7 linked regions of the Homo sapiens genome follow. Changing the gene in region 5 together with the main gene of any one other region gives a genetic interaction. Each region holds a gene or a part of one and is shown on either strand. Other genes may lie near its edges.

Region 1 (3,500 bases), on a different chromosome or scaffold from region 5:
TACTGGGCTTCAGAGAAGTCTCTCCATATCTCAGTGATGAGGGCTGGTACAAGCAGATCAAAAGGCAATGGTTGTACAGTCCTGTGTGCCTAGCCCTATACTTAGAGGTTTTTTTTTGTCATTTAGTCCAGAGAAGCCAAGGCTTCAGTACTGAAGGGCATGTACAGCTGGGAAACTTACGTATGACTGTTGGAAAAGGAGAATCACACAGAGCCAAAGCAGGGTTAAAAGGGGTGGCCATGGGTGCAGTGGCTTACTCCTGTAATCCCAGCACTTTCAGAGGCCAAGGCAGGTGGATCACTTGAGGCCAGGTGTTCAAGACCAGCCTGGCCAACATGATGAAATCCTGTCTCTACTAAAAATACAAAAATTAGCTGGGCATGATGGCACATGCATGTAATCCCAATAACTCAGGAGGCTGAGGCAGGAGAATCACTTGAACCCGGGAGGTGGAGATTGCAGTGAGCTGAGATCGCGACACTGCACTCTAACCTGGGCGACAGGTAGCCATGCAATGGATATCCAAAGAAGAATTCAGTAACCTTATGCAACTGTGAGACTTAAGTTAGGCCTTAAGGAGTAAGGAAGATTAGAGAAGGGAGAGGGAATGGCAGCAGAGGGAAAAACAAAGAGTAAAAGTTCAGAGGCAAGAATGATCCTGGCTTGTTTGCAGAGGACATTGAAAATCCCTCTGGAACAGGGAGCTGGGAACTCACACTTGCAAAGTACCTACATTGTGCACATATTATACATTAATGCACTTAGTCCTTATAACAGTGCTATGTGGTAGGTACTGTACGTTGCCACTGCATTTGAAAGATAAGGAAATTGAAGCTTAGAGAGGCAAATCATCAGAAGCTCAGGGTCACACAGCTGGTAAGAGGCAGAACTAGGATTCAAACCCAAGTCTACGTAACTCTAATATCCCTTATCAAATTGTGAAGAACTCTGAATGCCAGTATGAGGGACCAGGCATGATCTGAATTGGGACTAAAAAGCCAGAATAAGTCATTGTAATTTGTCTAATAACATACAGATCTGGCCAGGCATGGTGGCCCACGCCCATAATCCCAGCACTTTGGGAGGGCTAGTCAGGAGGATCACTTGAGACCAGGAGTTCAAGACCAGCCTGGGCAACATGGCAAGACCCTGTCTCTACAAACAAACAAAAAGATGCATTAAAAATACAAAAATTAGCCAGGTGTGGTGGTGCCTGCCTGTAGTCCCAGCTACTCAGGAGGCTGAGGTAGGATGCCTTGAGCCTGGGAGGTTGAGACTACAGTGAGCTGTGATGGCACCACTGCATTTCAGCCTGGGCAACAGAACAAGACCTTGCTCCAAAAGAAAAAACAAAACAAAACAGATTGGCAACCATTGATTTACTAAATAACTTTTTTTTTTTTTGAGACATGGGGTCTTGCTGTGTTGCTCAGGCTGGAGTGCAGTGGCTACTCACAGGGACGATAACCTTGACTAGTGTACACACTACAACCCTTCACTCCTGGGCCCAGCCTCCCTAGTAGCTGGGACTGCAGGTGCACCACTGAGCTGGGCTTAATGATTCTTTTGAAAAAGCCACTTAGTGAATAAGTCATTGTTGAACCCCGCTCCAGATAGGTCACACTCCTGGTTTGGTGTCCTGCAGCACTGACATCCCTTCTTCCTGTTTGGCACAGTTTAGACTCTATATGCCCTCCTGAAATGGGCTATGGTAACTTATTCAACCCAGTTCAGGCCAGAGGATTTCAGAAAGAAGAGTTGTTTTGGGAGAGAGGATAAAGGTCTGAACTAGACCTGAGTAGGGAGGACTGGGCTGATCCCCTACCACAGATACAGGCATACTCAGTGCTTCCTGCCTTCTGGGATGAAAGGCTTTGCTCCTGTCACCTCCTGTGTGTACAGCACTTCAGTTTACAAAGTGTATTCATTCCCATGGTCAGGTTCCTTGATGCTGCCCTTGAGGCTGGGAGGGGTACTATTATTACTTCTACTGTACAGATAAAGAAACAGAGGCTCCAGGAAGGGCAGTAACTTACCTGATCAAGGTCACACAGTTAGCTGGTAAGGGGTAACTTGAAGACTGTATGATGCACCAAGGAAAACACAGGACTTTGGGTCACAAAACTGGGTTTGTGTTCTGGCTCCCACACTAACTAGCTGTGTGATGTTGAGTTACTTTTACTGTTCTGAATTTGTTTCCTCATCTGTAGAATAGGCATAGTACTAACAGGTTGTTATAAAGGTCAAATGACATAATAACATGTGACCTATAAAGGCTTATACCATATGAGGGCTTTTTTATCAAGGGTCAAGGTCGGCAGATAAACTCAAGACATCAGAGTCAGGTATCCAGTACTCTTGGCCCTATACCACACTGCCTTTGCTCTGCTTGTTTCTGGACACTACCATACTCATCATCCTTTTCCAGTGTCGGTCCTCGTTCCCTTCCCAGCCCGGAAGCTACGCTGTCCTTCCCCTCTCCTTTGAGAGCTGATTTACTGATTGCTAGTTGATAACCACCTCTTTAGAGAGCTGTACTTCCAGTCTCTTGGGCCTTGTGACAGCCAGCCGGAGTTCCCTCCTTGCCTTCCTGCCTGGGCCAGCCCAGTGCTGGGCTTTTCAGTCATACTGTCAACACCCACTCTCCTGCTCTGTGTGGAACTGAAGATTACAGGCCCAGGAGTTCTGCTTTGAATGTCAAGGCTTCCCACGTAATCCGCTGGGCACAAATAATGCCCCCTGCCTCCAAGGAGCTTTAAGTCTTAGTTCATCCACCTAGTGCTCTTGTAACAACCATTTTAATCTCTAATTCCTGGATAGGAAAACTGAGGCCCAGCAAGCGTAAATGCCTCATGCTTGGTTATAGTGAGTCAGCAGAGCTGGGGTTAGAACTTAGGTCTCTCAACTTCCAGTCTGAGGTCTCTATTTGACTCTCCACTGGCCTAGAGGGTCCTTATGCCCTTCCCTGACCCACTGTCTGAGGGTCTCTATCTGAATGTCCTGACGTTGCATGCACACGTGCACGCGCACAAACACACACACACACTCTCTCTCATTCATGCAAATAGGATGGAAATATTTTTTAATGTGAACCAGAGACACAACTTCATAGAGTGAAACCATTCCTCTCCCAGCTGATTCCAAGGCAAACTGTAGCCTGGGAGGGAGGTGGGACCAAGCCCTGGGTCCTTTGCAGCCCCCACATGACGAAAGTTTCTTTTCCACTTCCCAGTGGGGATTTTCTTCCCCACTTGTCATTGATTTTTGAAGCTTCTGAACCAGTGGTGAGAGCCCAGGCTGGGGGGGTAAGGGGTTCCCAGACCAGGGTGCAGCCTTGCAGTATAGCAAGTGAAATGGAGAAAATGGGCTAGTGTTGATGGTGCTTGGGTGGAGCCAGGGATAAGGAATACTCAGGGATTTGGTTGTGTTTAAAACAGGGCTGCCCCCTCTCAGGGAGCAGGCCCTGGTTGTGGGAGACAGTCAGGGAAAGGAAGTCACAT
Region 2 (5,063 bases), on a different chromosome or scaffold from region 5:
GGCAAAGAGTAGAATGATAGTTACCAGAGACCGGGAGTTGGGTAGTGGGAGGGATTGGGGAGATGTTGGTCAAAAGATATAAAATTTGAGCTAAATAGGAGGAATGAGTTTGAGACATCTATTTTACATCATGGTGGCTATAGTTAATAACATTGTATTGTATACTTGAAAATTGCTAAGAGAGCAGATTTTAAGTGTTCTCGCCACACAAAAAAAGATAAGTATGAGTAGTCTGGGTATTAAATAGCCAGATATAGCCTTTGCACAATATATGCATATTTCAAAACATCATATTGTGCACCACGAATATGTACAATATTTTGCCAATAAACAAATAAGTGGATCCACAAGCTGAAAGAGAAGAGAGCTGTTAAAACACTTAGTTCTCCTATGAGAACACATGGGCACATTCAGGGGAGCAACACACACTGGGGTCTGTCAGGGTTTCAAGGGGAAAGAGAGCATCAGGAAGAATAGCTAATGGATGCTGGGCTTAATACCTAGGTGCCAGCCAGGCACGGTAGCTCACGCCTGTAATCCCAACACTTGGGAAGGCTGAGGCGGGCAGATCACGAGGTCAGGAGATTGAGATGATCCTGGCCAACATAGTGAAACCCTGTCTCTACTAAAAATACAAAACTTAGCTGGGCATGGTGGCACATGCCTGTAGTCCCAGCTACTAGGGAGGCTGAGGCAGGAGAATCACTTGAACCAGGGAGTCGGAGGTTGCAGTGAACTGAGATCGCGCCACTGCACTCCAGCCTGGCAACAGAGCGAGACTCAGTCTCAAAAAAAAAAAAAAAAAAAAAGAAAGAAAGAAACCTAGGTGACAGGTTGATCTGTGCAGCAAATCATCATCATGGCACATGTTTCCCTATGTAACAAACCTGCACATCCTGCTGGCTACATGTGTAGCCTGGAACTTCAAATAAAAGTTGATGGAAAAAAAAGAGAAAAATAAAAGTAAAATAAATAAGACAGTTTATGTTGTCGTTTTCTGTTTGTTTTGAGACAGAGTCTCACTCTGTCACCCAGGCTGGAGTGCAGTGGTGTGATCTCCGCTCACTGCAATCTCCGCCTCCCAGGGTTCAAGCGATTCTCCTGCCTCAGCCTCCCAAGTAGTTGGGATTACAGGTATCTGCCACTACGACCAGCTAATTTTTTGTATTTTTAGTAGAGACGGGGTTTCACCATGTTGGCCAGGATGGTCTTGAACTCCTGACTTCGTGATTCGCCCACCTCAGCCTCCCAAAGTGCTTGGATTATAGGTGTGAGCCACCGCGCCCAGCCAACACTTAGTTCTTATACAATGGGGTCAAGTGTGCTATAGGGCAGATGATGAAGTAACAAACTGCCTGGAGAAGGGTGGAGTGGTTATCATGAAGGTATCACAAAGAAGGACCATTTGAACTGAGGAATACGTAGGAGTGATCCGAAGGGAGACAAGGAGGAGGGTATCTGAGGAAGAAGGAAGAGCAAGAGCAGACGCATGGGGTGTGAAAGGGCATGCCCATGTGGGAACAAGGGATTGTCCCAGAGCACGAGGGAAGGCATAGAGTGTAAAGGGAGGGTGTAGGCTTGCCTTGCCAATCTGATTTGTTGCCTGCTGCTTGGCACTGACGAGCAATTCTACCTGATATCCCTTTAATTATCAATGCTGGCCTTGAAACTAGCCTCAAGAGATTCACTCCAGAACCCTTTATAGATACAAATTTTAAAAATCAAGAGGGTTTTTCTTTCCCTATATGTAAAATGTTTGGTTTGAATGATAGGGTATGTCTCATTAGTACAGATCCAAAAGCAAGCTGTGCAGACATCTTGTGCAACAATCTAAATTCCAAAGCAGATGATGTCACCTATCTATGCCCTATAAATGGAGCATTGTTTCACATGTATCTGAACAATTTATCTGCACGAATACCCCGTGCTACCAGAATGGCTGTCTCAGTACTTCGCCTGACAGTTGTCCTGGGACTGCTTGTCTTATTCCTGACCTGCTATGCAGGTAAGTGCTTCTGATCACAGCCCATGAATTGTTCAGTAGTTAGCAGTGACTAGAGAAAGCTGATGGCACTGATTCAGAACATAAAAGAAAGAAGGGGTCTTTGGGCACTCCAGAAAGAGCACTGGCCTGGGAGACAAGAGGTGTATCTTCTAACACAAAGAAAGTAGAATTTTAATAAAAACCTAGCCTCTATTTTCAGTGGATGTATGAAGTTTGAAATTTTTTTATGTGCTCTTATGATATAATGACACTATTCTAGTATAAATTCCATGGGAGCTGACTGGCATTTATTTTTTGATAATTATTCCTAATAATGTTCATTGGTGAAGAATATGTACTCTGGAATAAAACTCCTGTACCTGGCTCTACCACTAACCAGAAATGTGACTTTAGGAATGCTATTCAATCTCTCTAGGCCTCACATATAAATGGGGACATTTAACTTTCTCGTAAAGTTATCATGAAAATTAAATAAAAGGAATGAAACAAATTGGAAGGGTACCTGGTTGATAGTAAGCATGCAATAAATACTACCTGCTATTGTTGTCATGTATAATCTCATTTGGTTCTCATAGTAATCCAATGATGTAAACATGTACAGTTTTATCATTTTCCTTTTTGCAGGTTAATAAACAGGTTGCAGAGGGCAAGTTACTTGAGCATACATACAGGTGAAAGTGGCATCTGGGAGTGAAACCTAGGTTCCTAGATTCTTTCTACTATTATCGAGCAACTATTTCTTTCCCACCTTTTCCAAGCACATAGAAGCTCATGCTGTATGCTGCCTTCTCATTAATTAATTTACTGTTTGTCTGCAAAAGTCTGTGAGCTCCATTCAGAATGATAGACCAGAAAACAGAGGGAGTGCAAACATTTAGTGACAGAATCCTTTGAATGTAACTTGGCTGAAGAACACACAGACAGACATTACAACAGAATTACTCTAGACATGGCCACGGATATTATTCAGTCCATTCTACTCCTAAAGAAATCACTACAGTGAAGTGAAAGGAGAGATTTGATACCAAGACCAGGCACCACCCTGTCTCTTATAAACTCTGAAACTGGTTAAATCGTTCACTGCTTTGAACCTCAGTTTCTTTATCTGTAAAACGGGATAACTATCAACTTCACCAGGTCAAATGAATATGCTTTTTAATTACTTTGTAAACTATTAAAACTCTACAAATATCAGCAATACTGTTTATTAAGAACATTATATTCACATTCACTAAGAAACTCAACAAAGTAGTTACTGTAAATAAAGGCTATCCCATATAATACTTGAAAAAAGAAAATATTAAACTATTGACTTTGAAGATTGTTTCTAGGATATCAATCGTTTAATATTTTAATAGCATTTTTAAAATTTATATTATCTTCTAAAGCACTAGAGGAGAAAGTGAATTATAAATCATTTTGCTGCTATTATTATTAATAGTAACAATAAAACAGATAACATTTATTTATTCATTCTTTCATTTATTATTTATTTATATAAGGTAAGTTTATCTTGGGATTGGTACTACGATAAGTGGTATATATATGATATATGTATGTATATATAATATAGATATATGTATGTGTGTGTATATATATATAGATATATAATATATAAAATATCTTTCAATCCTGACAACATATGAGGAAACTGAGAGATGCAAAGTTAAGCACTGTGTGCAAGTTTACATGGCTAATTTTTTGTTAAAGGCAGGAATCAGACAGATCTATAAAACTCCAGAGCATGCAATCCATCACACTTTAATACCTCTCAATATATATGGGGTTCACAAGCTAAGGCCAAGATTTTGATTTCCGCCCACTCCAATCCCAGGCTTCTTGCATCTTGAAAAGCCAGGTTTTAGTGTCATATTAAAATAACAAGTCAATAGAATTTATTATGCAAGTAGCCAGATAGAAACACAGGAGAAAAAATCTCATCTTTCATGCAAGAAATTACTGCTTTGCATTTGGCAAATGTCTTTACAGAACAATTGTTTGGAGGTTGTATTATACAATGTGAATAATGTGCTTTGTGGAGTTAAAAAAAATTAGGTTCAAACCCTGGGTCAGCCACTTTCTAGATGAGTGATTTCAGGTGAGTCATTTAATTTTCCTGAGCATCTGTCTTCTCTGCTGTAACTGTGATACCACTGCTGAGCTAAATGACGATTAAGGCATGTGCTGAAAGCACTGATGGAGTACCTGCACGATAGGCACCTTACACATGAGTTCCGCTTCCGCCTCCTTCCCACAATAAAAACAAACCAATCCTTCTGAGTACCTGGGTTGCCCAGCACTTTATGTGAAGGTCATATCTACAGTTGTCTTTTTTTTTTTTTACCTTGACTCTTAGCATAACTATGCACATAATAGTAGGCTCAGGCCAGGCAGGATGGCTCACACCTGTGACCCCAGCACTTCAGGAGGCCGACGTGGGCAGATCACTCAAGCCCAGGAGTTCGAGACCAGCCTGGGCAATATGGCGAAACCCCGTCTCTACACAAAATACAAGAATTAGCCAGCTGTGGTGGCATATGCCTGTCGTCCCTGCTACTCAGGAGGCTGAGGTGGGAGGATGTCTTGAGCCCAGGACGTTGAGCCTGCAGTGAGCTGTAATCACTTCACTGCCCTTCAGCCTGGACGAGAGAGTGAAGCCCTGTTTCAAAAATAAAACATTAAAAAAGTAGGCCCAAAAATACTTTTTGAATGAAGGAACCAATCATTGGATATATGAATAGGTGATGATTAGTATATTGATTTTGGTTATATGTCCCAAACTGGTGCTTCTATCAAATCTTTAGTTGTGTCATAGTAAACAATAAATGCTCATAGAATTGCCTGCCAATCTTTTTTACTAATAGTTTCCATTTTAGGATATAATATAGATGTAAAGTTTCTGACATAATTTGGCAGCCTCCACACAAAAGGTAGTTACATCTCCTTTATCCAAAGTCAGGGGTACATTGTCTAGAAGTTGGGACTTCTTGAGTTAAAACTTGTGCTGAGGTTGCTAGATAAACTACGAGAAACACAGTTAGATTTGGATTTCTGATAT
Region 3 (4,609 bases), on a different chromosome or scaffold from region 5:
CAATATGTGCAGCGTTACCTGGAGGCGATCCTAATCATGTCACGGATGACTTTGCAGCTCATCTTACACTTGAACACAGAGCCCCTAGAGATTTAATATCCTTTTAAGAGATGACAAGGAAAAGAGTTGTTTGTAATGTTTGTCATTTTGATTTTTTGTTTTGGAGACAAGATCTCGCTGTGTCGACCTGGCTGGTCTCAAACTCCTGAGCTCAAGTGATCCTCCTGCTTCAGCCTCTTGAGTAGCTGGGACTATAGGCACACATGTGCCACTGCATCCAGCTTGTCATTTTGATTTTTTTTAAGGATCATATCCCCCAAAAGAGGAAAAGTAATGTCCAAATTATTTTTACTTATTTGAACTTTTCCTAAAAGTGACTCAGTGCTGAGATGCAATTTATTTCTCTTTTTATATACTATCACCATTGTATGAACCATTTTCATTAAGTGAAAGTTGACTTGTCCTTCATCTTTAGTTCATTACAATTAGATTTTTTTTAAGGCAGTTTGACCAAATTGTGTCTTCCAGGATGGCGTTTTCATACAAAAGAGGAAAATGTTAATCCAAATTAAAATTTAATTAGTTAAATATGAAGAGGCATTATTTGCTTTCCCTCTCTGTTCCTCTGCTGCCTTACCCTGTTGTGGGTGTGGTGTGGTGAGATGGTGGGGACAGGTGTGCATCTTGGTGTTCCTTTCCTTTTTGGGGTCCCCTTCTCCAGAGAGAGCCATTTCCTGCCGAGTTCCTGAGTAGGATAGCATAAGGTCAGCTCTAGCTTTAAATTTCCTTTCCTGCTTTTCTTTTCTTTTCTTTTTTTTTTAAAAGTCGGAGTCTTGCTCTGTCAGCCAGGCTGGAGTACAATGGTGCTATCTTCAGCTTATTGCAACCTCCACCTCCTGGATTCAAGTAATTCTCCTGCCTCAGCCTCCCAAGTAGCTAAGATTACAGGTGCCCGCCACCACACCCAGCTAATTTTTGTATTTTTAGTAGAGATGGGGTTTCACCATATTGGCCAGGCTGGTCTCTTGGCCATGCTGGTCTTGAACTCCTGACTGCCTGCCTCAGCCTCCCAAAGTGCTGGGATTACAGGCATGAACCACTGCGCCTGGCCAATTTTTGTATTTTTTTAGTAGAGATGGGGTTTCACCATGTTGGCCAGGCTGGTCTCGAACTCCTGACCTCAGGTGATCTGCCCACCTCAGCTTCCCAAAGTGCTGGGATTCAGGCGTGAGCCACCACGCCCAGCCTCTTGCTTTTATTTCTGCATTCCCTTCCTTGTCTCTCAACAGTTTCTGGCAGTGTTCCCTGAGATTACTGGCCTACCAGAGCGATTAATTTTGTGGACTCAATGCTTCTGATTTCAGGTTATGAATTGTTCGTCTAAAACTGTCACCAGCTGGGTACAGTGGCTCATGCCTATACTCCCAGCACTTTGAAAGGCCAAGGTGGGAGGATCACTTGAGCCTAGAAGTTTGAAACCAACCTGGACAACATAGGAAGACCCCATCTCTACCAAAATAATGAGCTCAGCTGGTGGCACACACCTGTGGTCCCAGCTACTCAAGAGGCTGAGGTAGGAGGATCACTTGAGCCCATGAGCTCAAGGCTGCAGTAAGCTATGATTGCACCACTGCACTCCAGCCTGGCAACAAAGTGAGACCCTGTCTCAAGATACATATATATATGTATATATAATCATAATATAAAATTATCAAATATATAAATATGATCATATCACTTTCTCTAGAACCCAAACCATCCTCATGAATATGATGGAACAGGGCATGTACCGTGACACCTGAAGGCCTCTTGGAGCTACCCATCCGGTCCTTAAATAACTCCAGAACCATCAGCTGAAAAACTGAGAAGCCAGCCAAAAAATTAATCTGCATTATAAAGCTGGTCTGTTTGGTACTTTAAAGGAAAAATCTCTTCTATATGATCTGGCCTCCCCCACCTCTCATTTGCCTTTGTGGAAACGTAAGGTTGTCTTCATGAGTTTTGACAGCTATTTGCAACTCAGGACCTTTTTCAGTTTGACTTACACTCAGCTGTGTAAGACGGTTGAGGCTGCTGGGAATTTTTCTTCGTGATAAATGTCATGTTAATCTATCTGTGTGTCTTATACAAGAAATGCAAATCTGTTTTCTGCTTAGCAGCGGCATTGGAAAGAAGCTTGAAGACAGAGTAAAACTAATAATCCAAAAGGAACCTTTGATGTGCTGAATATACATTCAGTATTGTTCCTTTTTCATTATAGGTGGTATTTGAGATTTCATGAGCTATATAGAGAAACTTTTTTACCTCACACACCCAATACACACACACACACTCACATGTTGCCTTACATTTGAGTGTCTTTTTAGGGTTAATAGCCCTCATAGATAGAGTTGGGACATTTGCACTTTAAGTTAAATGTGCTGTTTTTAAATGCTTACAATTCAGGAAATCTTTACATCTGTCTAGCAAGGACTCAGGTGATTTTTTTTCTTTCTGTGAAATACTTTCGTTTTTTTCTTAACTTTTGGGTTATGATGAATCGAGTGGTGTTCGACATGTACGTAGAATGTTTCACCCTGGCCGGGGATTAGGAGGTCCTCGTGCTCGTAGATCAAACATGCACTTTACTAGCAGTTCTACTGGTGGACTTTCTTCTTCTCAGAGTTCATATTCTCCAAGCAATAGGGAAGCCATGGATCCTATAGCTGGTAAGTTAGTTTCACATTAATAAGGGAAATGGCAGGGGAAGGAGGAGCTCCTTTTAAAACTTTTTGTGATGCCAGGTGCGGTGGCTCACACCTTTAATCCCAGCACTCTGGGAGGCTGGAGCGGGTGGATCACTTGAGGCCAGGAATTCAAGACCAGCCTGGCCAACATGGCAAAACTCCATCTCTACTAAAAATAAAAAAATTAGCCAGATTTGGTGGTGGGTGCCTGTAATCGCAGCTACTCTGGATGCTGAGGCATGAGAATCGCTTGAGCCTGAAAGGTGGAGGTTCCAGGGAGCCGAGATCGCACCACTGCAGTCCAGCCTGGGTGATGGAGTGAGACCCTGTCTCAAAAAAAAAAAAAAAAACTTTTTGTGAGATTTGTGTTCTTAAGTCTCACCTCTCTGATCATAAGCCATGTTCCTTCACAAAATTCCCAAATACATTAAAAGTGTAAAATGTGTTAAAAGCAGACACTTAACATAAAGTAATTCATACTCTTCTGGCATTGCTTAAGTCCAGTAGTCCCCCCGTCATGTGGTTTTGCTTTCCTGGGTTTCAGTTACCCACAACCAACTACAGTCAAAAAATAGGTGAGTACAGGACAATAAGATACTTAGAGAGAGACCACATCACATAACTTTCATAGTATATTTTTAGATTTACTCTATTTTGTTGGGAATCTCATGTTCCTAATTTATAAATTAGGTGCCTAATTTATAAATTAAACTTTAGCACAACAGATAAGTATGTATAGGAAAAAACATAGTATGTATAGGGTTCTGTATTATCCAAATGCCCATTTCAGCCATTCACTGGGGGTTTTGGAACGTATCTCCTGCAGGTAAAGGGAGACTACTGTTCTTAGAGACAAAAGATGATAAGAAATGGTTTTATGTTGTATTTGTGGCCTCTATTGAAGCCCAAGGAAATCATAAAAGATTTCAACTTGAATACCTCCAAAATGTCATGGTTAAATCTCCATAAGTACACATAAAAAAATGTCCAAAGCACATTTGAAATTAAGGTTTTATAAGGTATAGCTAACATTTTTAAGAACATGTTATGTGTAAAATTCTGTCACAGATTTATGCCTATCTCAGATGTTGTGCAAGGCGCCTCATGGCTTCCAGGTACACATTCCACCACATGGACACATTTCAGAACTGTTATCTATAGCTAATTGAAAAGACTAAAGAATTAAGCTCTTCTCATGGAAGAAAGGAAAGTAGGACTTAATGTCCTGACCTTGATTTGAGAACTATATTGTTGTAGAACATACTGAAAGGTACATGTTTAATAGCTTGGGAAAAATCTTAAAAAAAAAAAAAAAAACACAGTTTTTGAACCTGGCCATGTCACTGAGTCTAGTACATGACAAACCTAGGAAGTTGGTAGCAGAACACAGGGTCAAAATAAAATACAAGAAATCACTGTAGCCTGATAATCTGCAAGACACACCAAGCAGACAAGTGGTAAGACAGTGGGAAGTGTGCACACATTTAAAGCAACAATTCTGAAATGTGTCCATGTGGTGAAGTGTGCACCTACCTGGAAGCCATGAGCACCCTGCAGAACACCTGAAACATTGATAAGTGTAAATCTGTAATAGAAACTGAGAACATCAGAGCTAAATGACAACTTAGGAACACAAAGGAGGAGACAGCAGACACTGGGGGAGGGTAGCAAGAGAGAGAGGAGCAGAAAGATAACTGTTGGGTACTGGGCTTAATTGGGTCCTGGGTGATGTAATAATATGTATGACAAACCCTCGTGGCAGGTGTTTAACTGTGTAACGGACCTTCACATGTACCCCCAAACCTAAAATAAAAATTTAAAAAAGAAAAACAACCTAAGAACAATTTTATACCTATCATGTTATTTAAAAGTTAGATATACCA
Region 4 (4,609 bases), on a different chromosome or scaffold from region 5:
CTTTCCCATAATCTTTCAAAATGCTAGGGTATAAAATTATGTTGGTTGCCAGGCATGGTGGCTCATGCCTGTAATCCCAGCACTTTGGGAGGCCGAGGCCGGCGGATCACAAGGTCAGGAGTTTGAGACCAGCCTAACCAACATGGTGAAACCCCGTCTCTACTAAAAAAATAGAAAAATTAGCTGGGCGTGGTGGTGTGCGCCTGTAATCTCAGCTACTTGGGAGGCTGAGGCGGGAGCATTGCTTGAACCCGGGAGGCGGAGGTTGTGGTGAGCTGAGATCGTGCCATTGCACTCCAGCCTGGGCAATAAGAGCACAACTCCGTCTCAAAAAAAAAAATTATATTGGATGCATATAATTCATGCTTTGATGAGAATGCTTTAGGAAGTTTTTTGAAGTTTTTTGTTTTTTTGTTTTTTTTGAGACGGAGTTTCACTCTTGTTGCCCAGGCTGGAGTGCAATGGCGCGATCTTGGCTCACCACAACCTCTGCCTCCCAGGATCAAGCAATTCTCCTGCCTCAGCCTCCCGAGTAGCTGGGATTACCAGCATGCACCACCACGCCCAGCTAATTTTGTATGTTTAGTAGTGACAGGGTTTCTCCATGTTGAGGCTGGTCTCGAACTCCTGACCTCAGGTGATCTGCCCGCCTCAGCCTCCCAAAGTGCTGGGATTACAGGCGTGAGCCACTGCACCTGGCCTTGAAGTTTTTTTTAAACTTCCATTTACAGTGAGGAAAACATTTTATGTATAACCCATGTACACATACAAATTCATGTTTATGTATTTAAAATTTATTTTGAGGCAGGGTCTTGCTCTGTCACCCAGGCTGGGGTGCAGTGGCAGGATCATGGCTCATTGCAGCCTTGGCCTCCTGGGTCAAGTGATCCTCCCACCTCCTCCCGAGTAGCTGGGACTACAGGCTCAAGCCACCATGCCTGGCTAATTATTTATTTATTTGTATTTGTATTTATTTATTTTTTGAGATGGAGTCTCACTCTGTTGCCCAGGCTGGAGTGCAGTGGTGTGATCTCGGCTCACTGCAACCTCCGCCTCCTGGGTTCAAACGATTTTCCTGCCTCAGCCTCCCAAGTAGCTGGGATTACAGGCGTGAGCCACCATGCCTGGCCTAAATTTTTTTTTTTTTTTTTAAGAGGCAGAGTCTCACTATGTTGCCTAGGCTGGTCTCAAACTCCTGGCCTCAAGGTGCTGGGATTACAGCCATGAGGTACGGTGTTCTGCCCACTTATGTGTTTAGAGCGATTCAAAAGGAAAACACTTCCAAAAAGTTATTGCTCATTAACAGGGTTATATATATATAAATGTAAAGACATTGTGTAAAGGAACTGTTGTGATTAATTCTAGGATATTATAAAAATTCAGCCTGTGGCCGAGAGCAGTGGCTCACGCCTGTAACCCCAGCTACTTGGAAGGCTGAGGCAGGACAATCAGTTGAACCTAGGAGCAGAGGTTGCAATGAGCTGCGGTCGCGCCACTGCAGTGCAGCCTGGGCGACAGGGCAAGACTCCGTCTCAAAAAAAAGAAAAAAAGAAAAAAAGAAATTCCACCTGTGTCCTTGTGTCACGTGGCACACAGCATAAGATTTTAGTCTTGCTCATACCAGACTTCCTTCAGCTGCTCTTCCATGTGGTAGCCATTAGTACGTATAACCATTTCACATGAGATGTAACTGATAGGACTGAGGAAGTGAATTTTAACTTACTTGAATTTTAATGGTTATATTGTACAGTGTAGCTGTGTAGCATAGCATTTTGTGTCACTTCATTTTCTCAAGGTTTGGAGAAAGATTTTTGATGTACATACCAAATGTCTATATAAAACCTAAGTACTGAGCAATATATTTTTTCTAACTTTATTGGGTGTACTTTACATACTGTATAACTCACCTATAGGTTTTAGTTACAATCCAGTTTTATAGTACACTTTGTTGCAAAAAGTTCTCATGCCCATTTTCAAGTTAGTCCTGCTCTAGACAACCACTGTTCAGCTTTCTTTTTGCATAATTTTTTCTAGAAGTTTCATGTAAGTGGAGTAGTATTTTAGTCTTTTGTGTTTGGCTTTTTTCACTTAGTGTAATGCTTCTGAAGCTAACCGAAGAGCTTTTTCACATTTGTTGCGTGTATGGATTTGTTTCTTTTTGAGCAGTGCACATTTTAAACTAATTATCAGTTTTATCCTGTATTTAAACAAGTTTCATAAAATATTAACTTGCTCATATTGTCTGTGGAAGTGAAACTTAAAAGTTAGCATCAAATAATTTACACAAAACATAGAGGTTGGGTGCAGTGGCTCACGCCTGTCACCCTAACACTTTGGGAGGGTGAAGCAGGAGGATTGTTTGAGCCCAGGAGTTGCAGACCAGCCTGGGCAACATGGCGGAAAAAAAATTAGCTGGGCACAGTGGTGCTTGCCTGTAGTCCCAGCTGCTGCAGGAGGCTGAGGTGGGAGGGAGGTCACGGCTGCAGTGAGCTGTGATTGAGCCTCTGCACTTTAGCCTGGACAACAGAGTGAGACCTCATCTCAAAACAAAACAAAAACCACACAAAGTCTCAAGCAATCAATTAAAAATGAAAATGAGGAGGCTGGACATGGTGGCTCACACCTGTAATCCCAGCACTTTGGAAGGCTGGGGTGGGCAGATCATGAGGTCAGGAGTTTGAAACCAGCCTGGCCAACATAGTGAAACCCCGTCTCTACTAAAAATACAAAAATTAGCCGGGCATGGTGGTGTGTGTCGCCAAATCTGTAGTCCCAGCTGAGGCAGGAGGATCGCTTGAACCAGGGAGGTGGAGGTTGCAGTGAGAAGACCGCGCCTCTGCACTCCCCAGCCTGCGTGACAGGGCGAGACACTGTCTCAAAAAAAAACAAAAAAAGTGATTAAAATTCTTAATTCCATATACCCTCACCAATATTCTGTATCAGCTGCCCAAGTATTAGATAGGATGGGCTCAATCCTAAAAGGCACAACCCCCATATTTAACATCCCTAAAATTGGGATGTCTTACAATTGATGACAGGTCAATTGGGAGTGTAAAAGAATAACATAAGCTGGGTGTGGTGGCTCACGCCTGTCATCCCAGTACTTTGGGAGGCTGAGGCAGGTAGATTGCCAGACCTCAGGAGTTCGAGACCAGCCTGGGCAACAGGGTGCAACCCCGACTTTACTAAAATACAAAAAAAAAAAAAAAAATTAGCCAGGCATGGCAGCATGTGCCTGTAATCCCAGCTACTTGGGAGGCTGAGGCAGGAGAGTTGCTTTAACCAGGGAGGTGGAGGTTGTAGTGAGCTGAGATCACGCCACTGCGGTCCAGCCTGGCCGACAGAGCGCAAGACTCCGTCTCAAAAATAAAAAAAAAAAGAATAGCATGTTAAATTTTGTGAAATAGAGTATGCACAGATATTATGCATATATTTTTATTTAAAAAACCAGCTGGATCAGGCGCCATGGTTCCTTCCTGCACTCCCAGCACTTTGAGAGGCCAAGGCAAGAGGATCACTTGAGTCCAGAAGTTAGAGATCAGCCTGGGCAACAAAGCAAGCCCCTGTCTCTACAAAAAGATTTTTAAAAGAGCTAGATGTCGCAGTGTGCACCTATAGTCCTAGCTACTTGGGAGGCCGAGGCAGAAGAATCGCTTGAGGCCAGGAGTTTGAAGCTGTAGTGACATAGGACCACACCACTCCACTCCAGCCTGGACAACAAAGCGAGACCCTGTCTCTGGAAAAACAACACAGCTAGTAAATTTAAAACTATACTTTGCTAATAAGCATTATTTATCAAGTCCATAATATAGCACATCTACACATTAAGACGCAGTTCTAGTCTGGTTATATATTATTTTCAGTAAGAGAAACACAATGTTGCAAGTTGTATAAAACTTAGATGAGTGACAAGATGATTTTAGGGGTTTGTTCTGATGTATAATTTTTTTTTTTTTTTTTTTTTTGAGACGGAGTCTTGCTGTCGCCCAGGCTGGAGTGCAGTGGCGCGATCTCAGCTCACTGCAGGCTCCGCCCCCTGGGGTTCACGCCATTCTGTTGCCTCAGCCTCCCGAGTAGCTGGAACTACAGGCGCCTTCCACCTCGCCCAGCTAATTTTTTTGTATTTTTAGTTAGAGGCGGGGTTTCACCGTGTTAGCTAGGATGGTCTCGATCTCCTGACCTCGTGATTCGCCCGCCTCAGCCTCCCAGAGTGCTGGGATTACAGGCATGAGCCACCGTGCCCAGCCTGTATAAATTTAATCACACATGGTTGAATTAGATATGTTGGTAAAAATAACCCAAACTAGAAAAACTTAGAGTCACACAAAGCAATAAACAACTACAAAGCCTAGAGTTGGTATTAACAATTTATAAACTAATAGCTCTAACTTTGTATATCATGAAGTTTTAGAATCCAGAGACACCTCACCAAGTCTCATGACTATACTGAAAACACTGATTAAAATTTTTTGAAATTGTTCAGAGAATGCAGCTAACCATAACTGAAGTTCACTATTTTTAAGAGGACATGTATCAAATAGGGGATATGACTCATGAGTAAAATTCACATTTTTTCTAGCTGAAAAGCAAGTATATTTGAAGATAACAT
Region 5 (3,282 bases):
CCTACCCCATTCAGTATTTATTACCCTGGCCAGGCCTAGTCCTCCACTCCCTGCACAGGACTGAGAAGGCAATGAAAGGTACAAACATGTACCATGAGGTCTTACTAACCAAAGTAGGGCTGCCCCTCCTGTCCTGACAGCCCCTTGGCCTCCCAGCATGGGGAAGCGTGAGGAGTTGCCCAGCAGTGAGCAGCCCCCCTCACTCCTGGCCCCATGAGCCGCAGCCACAGGCAGCAGAGGAGGGCTAAGGAGAGGAGGAAGCCTCAAGTCCATTGTTTATTACCCCGACTCTTAGCCCAGCACACAGTAGGCACTGGAGAGGAATGATTCCCAGTTTAACCACACTACGGTACCTTTTATGAAGAAAAATTAGAGCATAAAATCTACTACAAGCTCCATAGGAACTCAAAGATGAGGGCAAAACTGTGAGCCAAGAAGCAGAGAAAGAAAATAGAACCAGTTATTCTTGATTTAGGGGACCTCAACCTTGGGTTCAGTCTCTGAGGACAAAGGGAAAGGTAGTTGTTGGCCTGCCTCTCGCCTGCACGTCACTGCTGGACTAGCTGTCGCATGTGGCTGGGAGCTGCAAGGCCAGTGCTTGAGGGGCCCCAGCAGTTCCACAGGTGGTGAAGCCTGAGTTGGCAGAGGAGGAGCCAGAAGAGAACTGCCCTTTCTGCACTGGTGGAAACTAGTTATTTATGCCATGTGGAGAGCCAGTGAGATAGATAGATAGTCTGTTTGTTTTGAGGACTTGGAAAGTTGTTCCTATGAAGCCTGGAGCTTGGATGGTTTTGAGAGGTTAATGGTGCCTCCACACTCACTCTTCCCTAGTTCCAGGATTACTGTCCTAGCAGCTAACGGTTCTACTCTCTTCCCCAGAGTGTAGACAGGCAGCAGGTCTCCCCACAGCTCTGAAAGGACCCTGGTGACAGCTACACCCTCAGCACCAGGAGCTGGCCTTCCTGATGAGGGAGGCTTCCAGGAAACACAGAATCCACATGACCTTAAGATTATTTACAACTCAGTCATGGTGCTGCTGTCCTCCAGGCTTACTGGCCCCTCCTGACTGGCATCAGGGGCTTCCTCAGGTGGTGGAGAGAGTTTACTTTCAACAACTAGTTTATTCAAGAAAAGAACTTACTGATTCCTCTGTTCCTAAAGCAAGAGTGGCAGGTGATCAGGGCTGGTGTAGCATCCGGTTCCTTTAGTGCAGCTAACTGCATTTGTCACTGATGACCAAGGAGGAAATCACTAAGACATTTGAGAAGCAGTGGTATGAACGTTCTTGGACAAGCCACAGTTCTGAGCCTTAACCCTGTAGTTTGCACACAAGAACGAGCTCCACCTCCCCTTCTTCAGGAGGAATCTGTGCGGATAGATTGGCTGGACTTTTCAATGGTTCTGGGTTGCAGGTGGGCACTGTATGGCTGGGTATGGAGCGGACAGCCCCCAGGAGTCAGAGCCTCAGCCCGGCTGCCCTGGTGGAAGGTACAGGTGTTCAGCACCTTCAGAAAAGGGCATAAAGTGGTGGGGGACAATTCTCAGTCCAGGAAAATGCATTGACCATTGCTGGCTATTTGCTTACCTAGTAAGAATTGGATTCATTTTTGACCAGATTATTCTTCTATGCTTTTTTGCAATAAATCAAATCCCACATATCTACAAGTGGTATGAAGTCCTGCACCCCCCAGGAGGCCTGTCCAGGCATGTCTTCAGAGGCAGGGTGGGTTACACTCATTTACCTCCCCTCTCCCCACCAAATTATGACACAAACGAGTATGTTTCCTCTCTAGAACCCTGTAATGCCTCCTCCCCCATCCCCAGAGCTCCTTACTGTAGGTCTTACCCTGGACAAGGATTTTTTCAAGTTGGAGGCACAGAACATGAGCAATCTGACATTCCCACAGCCCCTCAAACATGCAAGGCTACTAAGGCAGGAGGAGTATAAATGATGGATATTGACCAAGACCTGCTTGGACGGAGACCGCCATATTATCTGTTCTCTTCGTTCACAAAACAGCCTTCACTTGTCTCAGAATTTGATGGACACATACTGTGATGAGCAGGAGCTTCAGATGCACTCTTTACACATTTTGTTGAAATAAACCTCTACATTTGTAGAAGAGTTACAGTTTGTCATTTCAATCCATGCCCAGCCACCTCATTTCTTGTTCTGCTTTCAGCAGGGGCTCAGTGTGGGGCAAGCCCCTCCATGGCCCTGTAACACCTAAAGCCCTTTGTCTCCTGAACTTGCATAAAGATGATGGGTAGGCAGTAAAAAGCTGGCCTTGGCCAGCCCTGTCTTATCCGCTGAATCAAGGTCAAACTCTGAAAGGCTACAAATGCTCGGGAACCCCGTAGCAGAGGGTCAGTTTTTTAGTTTCTGTTGAGTTTTTCAGGATGGGAAACTTCTTCCTGCTGAGAGCTGGATGGGAGTCCTGGCAGGAATGTCCCCTCCAAAAGAGAATGTCTTTAGAGCAGGGACAAGAAAGACCACAGCTGTTTAGTGAGGATAACAGCTCCAGGCCTTGGAAGCCCAGAGCCCACTGTCCTCCTCAGAAGTCCCTTCTCAGCATACAGGAAGTTGAGAGTGCTCTGATAACTCAGTGTAAACACTGGGGCCGCATGGCCCTTGTTAGAGATTTGAGAGGAAGGTTTTAGATTTTCTTTCTTTAGCTATTCATGGATTTTTAACTCTGGGCACAAAAAGGCACTCGGGGCAGGAAGCTCATGATTCCATGCCGTCAACCCTCTGCCTCAGTTTCTCTCTCTAAAAAAACTTTCTATGGGCTGGGCATGGTAACTCACCCCTATAATCCTAGCACTTTGGGAGGCTGAGGTGGGTGTATCATGAGATCAGGAGATTGAGACCATCCTGGCTAACACGGTGAAACCCCCTAAAAATATATAAAAAATTAGGTGGGAGCAGTGGCACACACCTGTAGTCCCAGCTACTCAGGAGGCTGAGGCAGGAGAATTGCTTGAACCTGGGAGGCGGAGGTTGCAGTGAGCTGAGATTGCACCACTGCACTCTAGCCTGGTGACAGAGCAAGACTCCGTCTCAAAAAAAAAAAAAAAAAAAAGCTTTCTATGAATCCCTATAATTAAGGCAGGAATAAGCACCAATTCCTGAATGTCTGCAAAGATACAGGTCACAGGAGGCAAATCCCTGCCCTTTGCTGATTATTAAACTCAATGTTGTATCTGTCTCTCTCTTTGGGATATATTGCAAAGCAAAGGGTTGCTTTTTCTAAAATGAAATAGAGTGTTAAGAAAATATCA
Region 6 (4,609 bases), on a different chromosome or scaffold from region 5:
GCCACACTATGTTAAGATTGGAAGGAAGGAGGCTACACCCCCCATCATTTAGGGCGAGACCCTGAGAGAGTTCCTCAGGATAGCATGATGAAGTTTCCACAGTAGCAGAGGGTGCTGCTGTGGCTCTCTGCCTGAGGTCTTGGAAGCACTGCCTTTGCCAGGGTTTAGAGCTCCCTCTCAATTCCACAGCAGTATGGGCACTGCCTTCAGAGGTCCCATAGGGACTAGGGGTGTAGCAGCATCCCCTGCCAACTCCCATCCAACCAAATCTGGCCACAGTGGCCAGATTCCAGAGAGCTGTCCAAGGCCTGTTCTGGCTGTGGCTTCTGGTTTCTGCCAGGAGGGCAGTTGGCAGGAGGGGCCAAGGCCCTGCAGGCCTGGTCAGCACCAGCACAGATGACCAGGCCTCTGACTGCAGATCCCTGTGGGGATCCAAGCATCCCTGGTTTTTCACCCTTTAGCTCCCCAGTTTTTCCTACAAGGGGACAGCTCTGCTCTTCCCCTCCCCGTCTGTTCCCATGGTCCCTGCTCCTCTGAGGGACTGGCTTTCTCCTGCAGGGACACTGCAGGGCAGGAGAGATACCAGACCATCACAAAGCAGTACTATCGGCGGGCCCAGGTAAGCCACCACATTGGGGGTTTCAAAGTGGGAAGCTGCCACCCACACTCCCAGCTCTGGGTATTTGAGATGTCTGTGCCACGGATCCCCTAAATACAGTTCGCCTGCTTGGAGGAGCGCAGGGCGTCTTTCAGCTGTTCACTGATCATTTGTCCGTCCATTGTTCATGGCCCACTCACTGCAGGCAGGCCCCTGCCCTCACCCCTGACTTCCACCCTCCATCCTGGGTCAAAGATCCAGGTCAAAGCATGTGGTGTCTTCCTGCTGTAGAGAGTTCTGTGATGGGCCTGGGAGGCGGCAGTGGTGGGGTCTGAGAGAAGAGATATTTCTGGATGCTGAGCAGGGAGAATGGGAGAGTGGGACCCAACCTTTAAGTTTCCACGGCCCCTTCTGGCCCCATGACTGCACTCTCTCTGTGCATATCACATCTCTCTATTTCTCTCTCTCTCAGGGGATATTTTTGGTCTATGACATTAGCAGCGAGCGCTCTTACCAGCACATCATGAAGTGGGTCAGTGACGTGGATGAGGTAGGAGATGCCACCTCACTGCCGGGGTGTGGAGAGGGTGCCTCACCGGGGAAGGCAAGGCGAGGGCCAGATGGGAAGGCAAATGCTTCCAGGAAGCTTTGCCTTCCACAGCCCTGGATGAAGACCTCTGGGTGAGTAAGACATGGGGAAGAAACCGAAGCTGCCATGCCCTCACTCTCTATACCCTGCCAGGCCTCCACGGCTGTGTCTTTCCCGGAAATGAATTAGTTCCAAGTCTTCCCTGTGAGCAGCTTCTTTCCTGAAATCTTGGGACCAGGTGGAGTTGCAAGATTGGGATCTAGTCCTGGCTCTGCACAATAGCTGTGGAGCCTTGGGAAGCCATTTGAATCCTCTGGGTCCCCAGTTCCTGTAGAATGAGGGCTGGACTTACATCCAATGTCCTTTCCAGCTCTGATACCAGTGGTCTAACCCAAGGAAGCACCAGTCTTAGCCAGAGTGTCTTCTACCCTAAGCTCTCCCCGTGATACCCTTGAGGTCAGCCATGGCACTTGGGGGAGCCTGGCACCTGCATCCAGTCGGCCCACCCTGTCCCTAGGGCTCTGGAATTGGTGGTGGGCTGGAGGCAGTGCAGACTCTGTAGGGAAAATTGGGGGGGCAGGCAGCACTCACTGGCTGTTCTGCCCATCCTTTGTCCCTAGTACGCACCAGAAGGCGTCCAGAAGATCCTTATTGGGAATAAGGCTGATGAGGAGCAGAAACGGCAGGTGGGAAGAGAGCAAGGGCAGCAGGTAAGTGGAGGGAAAAGGCAAGTCCACCCCAGGTCCTCTGCTGGGCCTCCAGGGCCAGTCCTGAGCGTGGGGACCTAGGGGTGTGTTCCCCAGTGGCAGGTCCTCCCACACGTCCCCAGCACCCCAAGGCCCTGGGGGAGTGGCCATCCTCGGAAGGCTTGTTGTCTGGGTTTCAGGACAGAAGCCCAGAGATTCGGGGTCCATCCAGAAACAAAGACGTCATAGGCAGCAACTCTCCCAAGTCCAGGTCCCCAAATGCAGGATTGCCCTCTGCTTAAGAGATCATCCCCGTGTTAGTAATGAAGGACTTCAAGTTGTCAACCTCTTCTCTGACAGCATCCAGGCCTAGCTGCCATGTTACGGTCGAGAAATGATCTCCCATCCCACCCAACACTCCCCCACTCCTGTCCTTCTTACCCAGGAAAGAGCCAGGGAGGCAAATGAGGAGACAAAGAGCCACAGCTGGAGAAGCCATGGGGGCAGAAAGGGTAGGAGGATGACGCTGAGGGAATGTCCAAGCATGCAGGGAGACCATCCTCCCAGAGAGCAGAAAGAAATATTGGTTATTTTTTTTTTCTTTCTTTCTTTTTTTTTTTTTTTTTGAGATGGAGTCTCGCTCTGTCACCCAGGCTAGAGTGCAGTGGCGCCATCTCGGCTCACTGCAACCTCTGCCTCCTGAGTTCAAGCAATTCTTCTGCCTCAGCCTCCCAAGTAGCTGAGATTACAGGTGCATGCCACCACGCCTGGCTAATTTTTTTGTATTTTTAGTAGAGATGGGGTTTTGCCATATTGGCCAGGCCGGTCTCGAACTCCTAACCTCAGGTGATCCACCTGCCTCAGTCTCCCAAAGTGCTGGGATTACAGGCGTGAGCCACTGTGCCCAGCCAAGATTGGTATTTCTGAGATAAGTTATCCACTCAGTCCGTGGACCTCAAGAGTTTTCCTCTCCCTTTTCAGTCAATAGCGTTCCATTAGTACTTAAAATGAAATTGATTGTTTGGTATAAAATATAAGACATGGTCATTGACCAATTTGAAAGTAGAGGCAAAGCCTACTAGGATAGTATTTATTGAGCACTCTATGTGTGGCACTGTGCTAAGGCAAGCGCTTTTAAGTGCACGACCCCACTGAATCATCCCACAACCATGGATGGGAGACACACTCAGTCTCCTTTAACAGAAGATAAAGCTGGGGCTTACAGAGAATGTACAACTTGTCCAAGGTCACACAGCTAGCCATCAGTGGCAGTGCTGCTATTCAGGTCTGGGACTGTGGGACTCCAGAGCCCATGTTTTTTACGAGGATGCCATACTGCCACAATGGATGGTGTCTTTATCTCCTGATATATGATTGTGTGTTGGGAGGCGTGGGGTGGCAGCTGGAAGAATGGAGAGGCATATTTGTGGAGGATCTTCCCCCATTCTCTGCTACCCTCTCTTGGAGCTCCCAGTCCCATCTGAGAAATTATCTACTCTGAGAAATCGTCACAACACAGCATGGTTGTGAGTGCAGTGGCAGAAGCCTGTGCCTGGTTGTATGGGCCCCTCCCCTGCCTTACTGACTCTCTTTCAGAAATGTCCTTCTCTTGCAGCTGGCGAAGGAGTATGGCATGGACTTCTATGAAACAAGTGCCTGCACCAACCTCAACATTAAAGAGGTGAGAGCCCTGGTGACCAGGCGCCCGCTCTCTCGGGCTGAGTCCAGCAGAGGTGGGAGGAGGAGCCATAAGATGGACCTTATCCCTCAGGCCGCTGCAGGGTTGCCAGGGGAGAGGAGGAGACACTGGACTAACCTGTGCCCTTTGGTTTCCAGTCATTCACGCGTCTGACAGAGCTGGTGCTGCAGGCCCATAGGAAGGAGCTGGAAGGCCTCCGGATGCGTGCCAGCAATGAGTTGGCACTGGCAGAGCTGGAGGAGGAGGAGGGCAAACCCGAGGGCCCAGCGAACTCTTCGAAAACCTGCTGGTGCTGAGTCCTGTGTGGGGCACCCCACACGACACCCCTCTTCCCTCAGGAGGCCCGTGGGCAGACAGGGGAGCCGGGGCTTTGCCCTGCTGCTGTCCTCTCGTGTGATGACCCTATTGAGTATCAGTAGCCACTACTCCCCCTGCCTGGCCCTGAGAGCGGCTCTGCTGTCATCTCAAGCAGCCCCTGTCCCCAGCCCGTCCACCCTGGAGTGGTCTTCTTCAGCCTGTTTCCCCAGCCACAGGCCTGCTACGACCCCCACGATGTGCCGCAAGCACTGTCTCACCATCCCGCACCCACCAGACAACAGCCAGGGCTGGAGTCCAGGCCACTTTCAGCTGCTCCTTTCTCCGTGCATCGTGTCTCTTCTCTGCTTTTTCTCTCTTCCCCCACTTCTCTTTCTCTGACCCCTCCCCTCCGGTGCGTTTCGTATCAAAGCTCCTCAAACCCCGTCCCCCGTGTGTCCTGCTGTGTGCAGCTCGCTCTTTCCTTCCTTCCTAAGCTATCCAAGGGGATGGACCCAGGCTCGTGGGGAGGTTCCACCCTTGGATCCAGGAAGAACCCTCCACCCTGCCTCGTGGGTGGGCCAAAGGCTACAGGGTGCTTCTTCCTCTTCCCCCACCCCCACTGTCCCTCATGTGCCATGGGCCTGCCTCCCCAGTGACCTGCGAAAGTGGAGCATCGAGGTAGGAGGGAAACGGCAACCAGGGAGTCCTCGAGCCTGGGGCTGCCCTACCTCTACCCATTC
Region 7 (4,609 bases), on a different chromosome or scaffold from region 5:
AGAAAAACCTGTTCCATATATATTGTTTTAGTAATGCTTTCCTTTTCTGTGGAGCATATGAAAACGTACAAACTTTCACAGTGTCAGTTCAATTTAATCATTCGGAGGTAGGCTTTGTAATTATAGTTGCAGAAACAGACCCAAAAAAGTTAAGTGAGGCTGGTCACAGTGGCTCATTCCTGTAATCCCAGCGCTTTGGGAGGCCAAGGCAGGAGGATCCCTTGAGCCCAGGAGTTCTGAGACTCACCTGGGCAACATAGTGAGACCCCGTCTCTACAAAAAAATTTAAAAATTAGCTGTGCTTGTTGGTGGGTACCTGAAGTCCCAGCTACTTGGGAGGCTGAGATAGGAGGATCGCTTGAGCCCAGGAGTTTGAGGCTGCAGTGAGCTATGACTGTGGCACTGTACTCCAACCTGGGCGACAGAGTGAGACCCTGTCTCCAAAAAAAACCGCAAAATGTTGTGTCCTGCTCAGTGTGATGCATTTAGTAAATGACACGAAGAACTGGACATCAGAACTCCTAATTTTTATATCTAGTGTTTCCTAACATGATCCAGTGCTTTTTTGTTTAATTGGAAATGGAGTCTCACTCACTCCATCACTCAAGCTAGAGTGCAGTGGTGCCATCTTGGCTCACTGCAACCTCAGGTTCTCAGGTTCAAGTGATTTTCCTGCCTCAGACTCCTGAGTAGCTGGGATTACAGGGATGCACCACCATGCCCGGCTAATTTTTGTATGTTTAGTAGAGACGGGGTTTCACCATGTTGGCTAGGCTGGTCTCAAACTCCCTACCTCAAGTGATCGGCCCGCCTTGGCCTCCTGAAGTGCTGGGATTACAGGTGTGACCCACCACACCCAGCCAGTCCAGTGCTTTTTAGTATAGGTATTGAGGGCTATGCTTTGACTTGAAATTCCTGTTAATGAAAGGGTCTAATTTAGGAGAGTGATGTAAGACCTAAGGATTTGTCTCTAACAGCAGAGCAATAGTTATACAAATGTTCTATTTTCTGAGAGAAGGTTGACTGGCCTTTCCTCCTATTGATACAATTTTTGATATTTCTCACTCTACAGATATCACAATTTCTGGCTGTAGTCTCTTTATTATTTTCACATCAGCTGTCTTCCTTAGGCTTGGCGTGGTGATGCTTGTGATCCCAGCTACTCAGGAGGCTGAGGTACGTGGATCACTTGAGCCTGGGAGGTTGAGGCTGCAGTCAGCTGTGATCACATCATTGTGTTCCAGCTTGGGTGACAGAGGCAAGATGCTGTCTCAAAAAAAAAAAAAAAATTCAGATAAGCCCTCCGTATTTTTTCTTTTTCAGTTCGTGTGCAACCAGGGATTGGCACATTATTATTTTTAGACAGGGTCTCACTGTGTCACCCATGCTGAGTGCAGTGGTGGGATTATGGCTCACTGCAGCCTGGACCTCCCAGGCTCAAGCAGTCCTCCCACCTCTGCCTCCTGAGTAGCTGGGACTACAGGCGCACACCACCACGCTGAGCTGGTTTCTTAATTTTTGTAGAGACATGGTCTTGCTATGTTGCCCAGGCTGGTATCTAAGTGCTGGGATCACAGGCATGAGCCACCACACTCAGTCCCCCATTGATTTTTGAATCCCAAATAAAATCACCTTAGCAAAACCTTCCTTAAAAGATGTACAGTTAGCTGGGGTGGTGGCTTACGTTTGTAATCCCAACACTTTGGGAGGCCGAGGTGGGTGGATCACCTGAGGTCAGGAGTTGGAGACCAGCCTGACCAACATGGTGAAACTCCATCTGTACTAAAAATACAAAAATCAGCTGGGTGTGGTGGCGGGCACCTGTAATCCCAGCTACTTGGAAGGCTGAGGCAGGAGAATCACTTGAACCTGGAAGGCGGAGGTTGCAGTATGCCGAGATCACGCCACTGCACTCCAGCCTGGCGATAGAGCGGGACTCTGTCTCAAAAAAAAAAAAAGGTGTACAGTTTGTTCACTTGAGAATTCACTACAGGTTAACTTGTGATTGATTGGAAGTGTCAGCTGTGTATGTAAAGTGGCAGTCAGTTGCTCAAAGGCTTATTTGTCACTCTTATATATGCTTAGAGAGTAGCACAGTGCAGAAGGATACGAGTGTTTAGGAAGCTAGAAAAAGGATTCATGAATTTACCAAATGTTTCAGGGGGTTTGTGTGTGTGTGCGTGTGTAAGGCAGTGATGAATTCTAGGCTTATGAGAATGTTCATGAAGTTATTGATTGTCTTGTTAGGAATTTTCAACGTCCGGTTCATCTAATACAGACACTGGTAAAGTTACTGGGACCTTGGAGACCAAATACAAGTGGTGTGAGTATGGTCTGACTTTCACAGAAAAGTGGAACACTGATAACACTCTGGGAACAGAAATCGCAATTGAAGACCAGGTAACATTTTGAAAATTTTAGTATTAATTTTATTAATTTATTTTTGTATTTCAAAAAAAGAAAACAAATTACTTTTCTTTCAAAATAGATTTGTCAAGGTTTGAAACTGACATTTGATACTACCTTCTCACCAAACACAGGGTAAGCACAGACATTTTTATCTGTATTACATTTAAAAGTATTTCTCTTTTGTATATTTAGAAAAGGTGTACATTTACTGTTTGATAGCTTATTAAGCTACCTTGTGGTGGTGAAATCTCTGTATCTGCTTTTATTTATTTATTTGAGATGGAGTCTTTGCTGTGTCACCCAGGCTGGAGTGCAGTGGCATCATCTTGGCTCACTGCAGTCTCAGCTTCCTGGGTTCAAGCGATTCTTCTGCCTCTGCCTCCCTGAGTAGCTGGGACTACAGGTGCGTGCCACCACGCCCAGCTAATTTTTGTATTTTTAGTAGAGGCGGGGTTTCGCCATGTTGGCCAGGCTGTCCTGGAACTCCTGACCTCAGGTGATCTGCCCACCTTGGCCTCCCAGAGTGGTGGGATTACAGGCATGAGCCACCACGCCCAGCCTTTTTTTTTTTTTCCATATTTTATTTTATTGTATTTATTTTATTTTATTTTATTTTCATTTGGGACAGAGTCTTACTCTGTCACACAGGCTGGAGTGCAGTGGCGCGATCTCGGCTCACTGCAACCTCTGCCTCCCGGGTTTAAGTGATTCTCCTGCCTCAGCCTCCTGAGTAGCTGGGATCACAGGCATGTGCCACCACGCCCACCTAATTTTTGTATTTTTGGTAGAGACAGGGTTTCACCGTGTTGATCAGGCTGGTCTTGAACTCCTGACCTCGTGATCTGCCCACCTCAGCCTCCCAAAGTGCTGGGATTACAGGTGTGAGCCACCGCTCGCAGCCTGTTTGTTTATTCTCTGTCACCCAGGCTGGAGTGCAATGGTGCGATCTTGGCTCACTGCAACCTCTGCCTCCTGGGTTGAAGCGATTCTCCTGCCTCAGCCTCCTGAGTAGCTGGGATTACAGGCATATGCCACCGTGCCTGGCTAAATTTTTTTGTATTTTTAGTAGAGACGGGATTTCACCATGCTGGCCAGGCTGATCTTAAACTCCTGACCTCAGGTGATCCGCCCGCCTCAGCCTCCCAAAGTGCTGAGATTACAGGCGGGAGCCACCATGCCTGGCCCATATCTGCTTTTAGAATACTATGGTTGCTATCATTGGCTTGCCTTCAAATATTTGCCTCTTTGTTGTTGCACTAACTTGGGCAACTAATGTGTTTCTAACAGGCTTTTGTGACTGATTGTTTGTTCTGCAAAGCAGTTTTCCTAGATGGCTGTCCAGTTGCTTCATGTGTCCTTGTCTTGTAGTTCATTGAGCTGACTTTTTTACTCCCTGTTATTGTATTGCTGATTTTTACTCCCTGGTCATACTGCAGTTTATTTAAGTCTGTTTTGTGCTCTCTTGTGCAGAAGTGTGTGTAAATTTTTCCCAATGACATCAGTTTGTTCTTTTTCCAGAAAGAAAAGTGGTAAAATCAAGTCTTCTTACAAGAGGGAGTGTATAAACCTTGGTTGTGATGTTGACTTTGATTTTGCTGGACCTGCAATCCATGGTTCAGCTGTCTTTGGTTATGAGGGCTGGCTTGCTGGCTACCAGATGACCTTTGACAGTGCCAAATCAAAGCTGACAAGGAATAACTTTGCAGTGGGCTACAGGACTGGGGACTTCCAGCTACACACTAATGTGTAAGTATTTCTTTCATAGGATACTGTGATGTGGGCCCTCAGAGGATGATTTTGATGTCTGTCATCTTATTGATCTGGGTGCACCCTAAAGGATTTCTCATAACATTTAAAAACAAAATCATTCTTGGTCATTTCTAGGGTGCCCCTTGAAAGTTTATAGTAGAAGACTGTTAGTCTGACCTTTGGTGCTGAGAGAGTAAATGTTCATTTTATATGGGGTTTAATGTGCTTTGTATTTTTACAAGAGGCATTATATATTGGCAGACTGCTACCAGTACATTCATTTTACTTAATTATTTTGATGTGTGAGATGCTGACTTGATAGGATTGCCTAAAATGTATGGTGTTTTGTGGTTGGGTTTTTTTTTCTTTTTCTTTTTTCTTTCTTTTTTTGTTTTGGTTCAGACAGAGTCTTGCTCTTTTGCGATCTCGGCTCACTCCAACATCCGCCTCC

What was found.
Region 1: changes in ACACA (region 5) and RHOG together harm fitness more than expected from each alone (negative genetic interaction), as found in Homo sapiens cells (one large-scale study listed by BioGRID).
Region 2: changes in ACACA (region 5) and C5orf46 together harm fitness less than expected from each alone (positive genetic interaction), as found in Homo sapiens cells (one large-scale study listed by BioGRID).
Region 3: changes in ACACA (region 5) and KCMF1 together harm fitness less than expected from each alone (positive genetic interaction), as found in Homo sapiens cells (one large-scale study listed by BioGRID).
Region 4: changes in ACACA (region 5) and NOP58 together harm fitness more than expected from each alone (negative genetic interaction), as found in Homo sapiens cells (one large-scale study listed by BioGRID).
Region 6: changes in ACACA (region 5) and RAB15 together harm fitness more than expected from each alone (negative genetic interaction), as found in Homo sapiens cells (one large-scale study listed by BioGRID).
Region 7: changes in ACACA (region 5) and VDAC2 together harm fitness more than expected from each alone (negative genetic interaction), as found in Homo sapiens cells (one large-scale study listed by BioGRID).

What each region holds. Positions count from the first base shown.
Region 1 is NC_000011.10:3,830,960-3,834,459, reverse strand, and holds part of RHOG (rho-related GTP-binding protein RhoG), read left to right. Parts: intron 1-3,500.
Region 2 is NC_000005.10:147,903,374-147,908,436, reverse strand, and holds the start of C5orf46 (uncharacterized protein C5orf46 precursor), read left to right. Parts: upstream 1-1,898; 5' UTR 1,899-1,935; coding exon 1,936-2,005; intron 2,006-5,063.
Region 3 is NC_000002.12:85,043,571-85,048,179, forward strand, and holds part of KCMF1 (E3 ubiquitin-protein ligase KCMF1), read left to right. Parts: coding exon 1-95; intron 96-2,533; coding exon 2,534-2,708; intron 2,709-4,609. UniProt on the Homo sapiens protein: E3 ubiquitin-protein ligase which accepts ubiquitin from an E2 ubiquitin-conjugating enzyme and then transfers it to targeted substrates, promoting their degradation by the proteasome.
Region 4 is NC_000002.12:202,268,207-202,272,815, forward strand, and holds part of NOP58 (nucleolar protein 58), read left to right. Parts: intron 1-4,609. UniProt on the Homo sapiens protein: Required for the biogenesis of box C/D snoRNAs such as U3, U8 and U14 snoRNAs. Part of the small subunit (SSU) processome, first precursor of the small eukaryotic ribosomal subunit.
Region 5 is NC_000017.11:37,083,835-37,087,116, reverse strand, and holds the end of ACACA (acetyl-CoA carboxylase 1), read left to right. Parts: 3' UTR 1-2,125; downstream 2,126-3,282. UniProt on the Homo sapiens protein: Cytosolic enzyme that catalyzes the carboxylation of acetyl-CoA to malonyl-CoA, the first and rate-limiting step of de novo fatty acid biosynthesis.
Region 6 is NC_000014.9:64,947,613-64,952,221, reverse strand, and holds part of RAB15 (ras-related protein Rab-15), read left to right. Parts: intron 1-558; coding exon 559-619; intron 620-1,070; coding exon 1,071-1,148; coding exon of another isoform or gene 1,149-1,279; intron 1,280-1,807; coding exon 1,808-1,897; intron 1,898-3,488; coding exon 3,489-3,554; intron 3,555-3,709; coding exon 3,710-3,868; 3' UTR 3,869-4,609. UniProt on the Homo sapiens protein: The small GTPases Rab are key regulators of intracellular membrane trafficking, from the formation of transport vesicles to their fusion with membranes.
Region 7 is NC_000010.11:75,216,816-75,221,424, forward strand, and holds part of VDAC2 (non-selective voltage-gated ion channel VDAC2), read left to right. Parts: intron 1-1,072; exon of another isoform or gene 1,073-1,143; coding exon of another isoform or gene 1,144-1,176; intron 1,177-2,247; coding exon 2,248-2,400; intron 2,401-2,488; coding exon 2,489-2,541; intron 2,542-3,927; coding exon 3,928-4,155; intron 4,156-4,609. UniProt on the Homo sapiens protein: Non-selective voltage-gated ion channel that mediates the transport of anions and cations through the mitochondrion outer membrane and plasma membrane.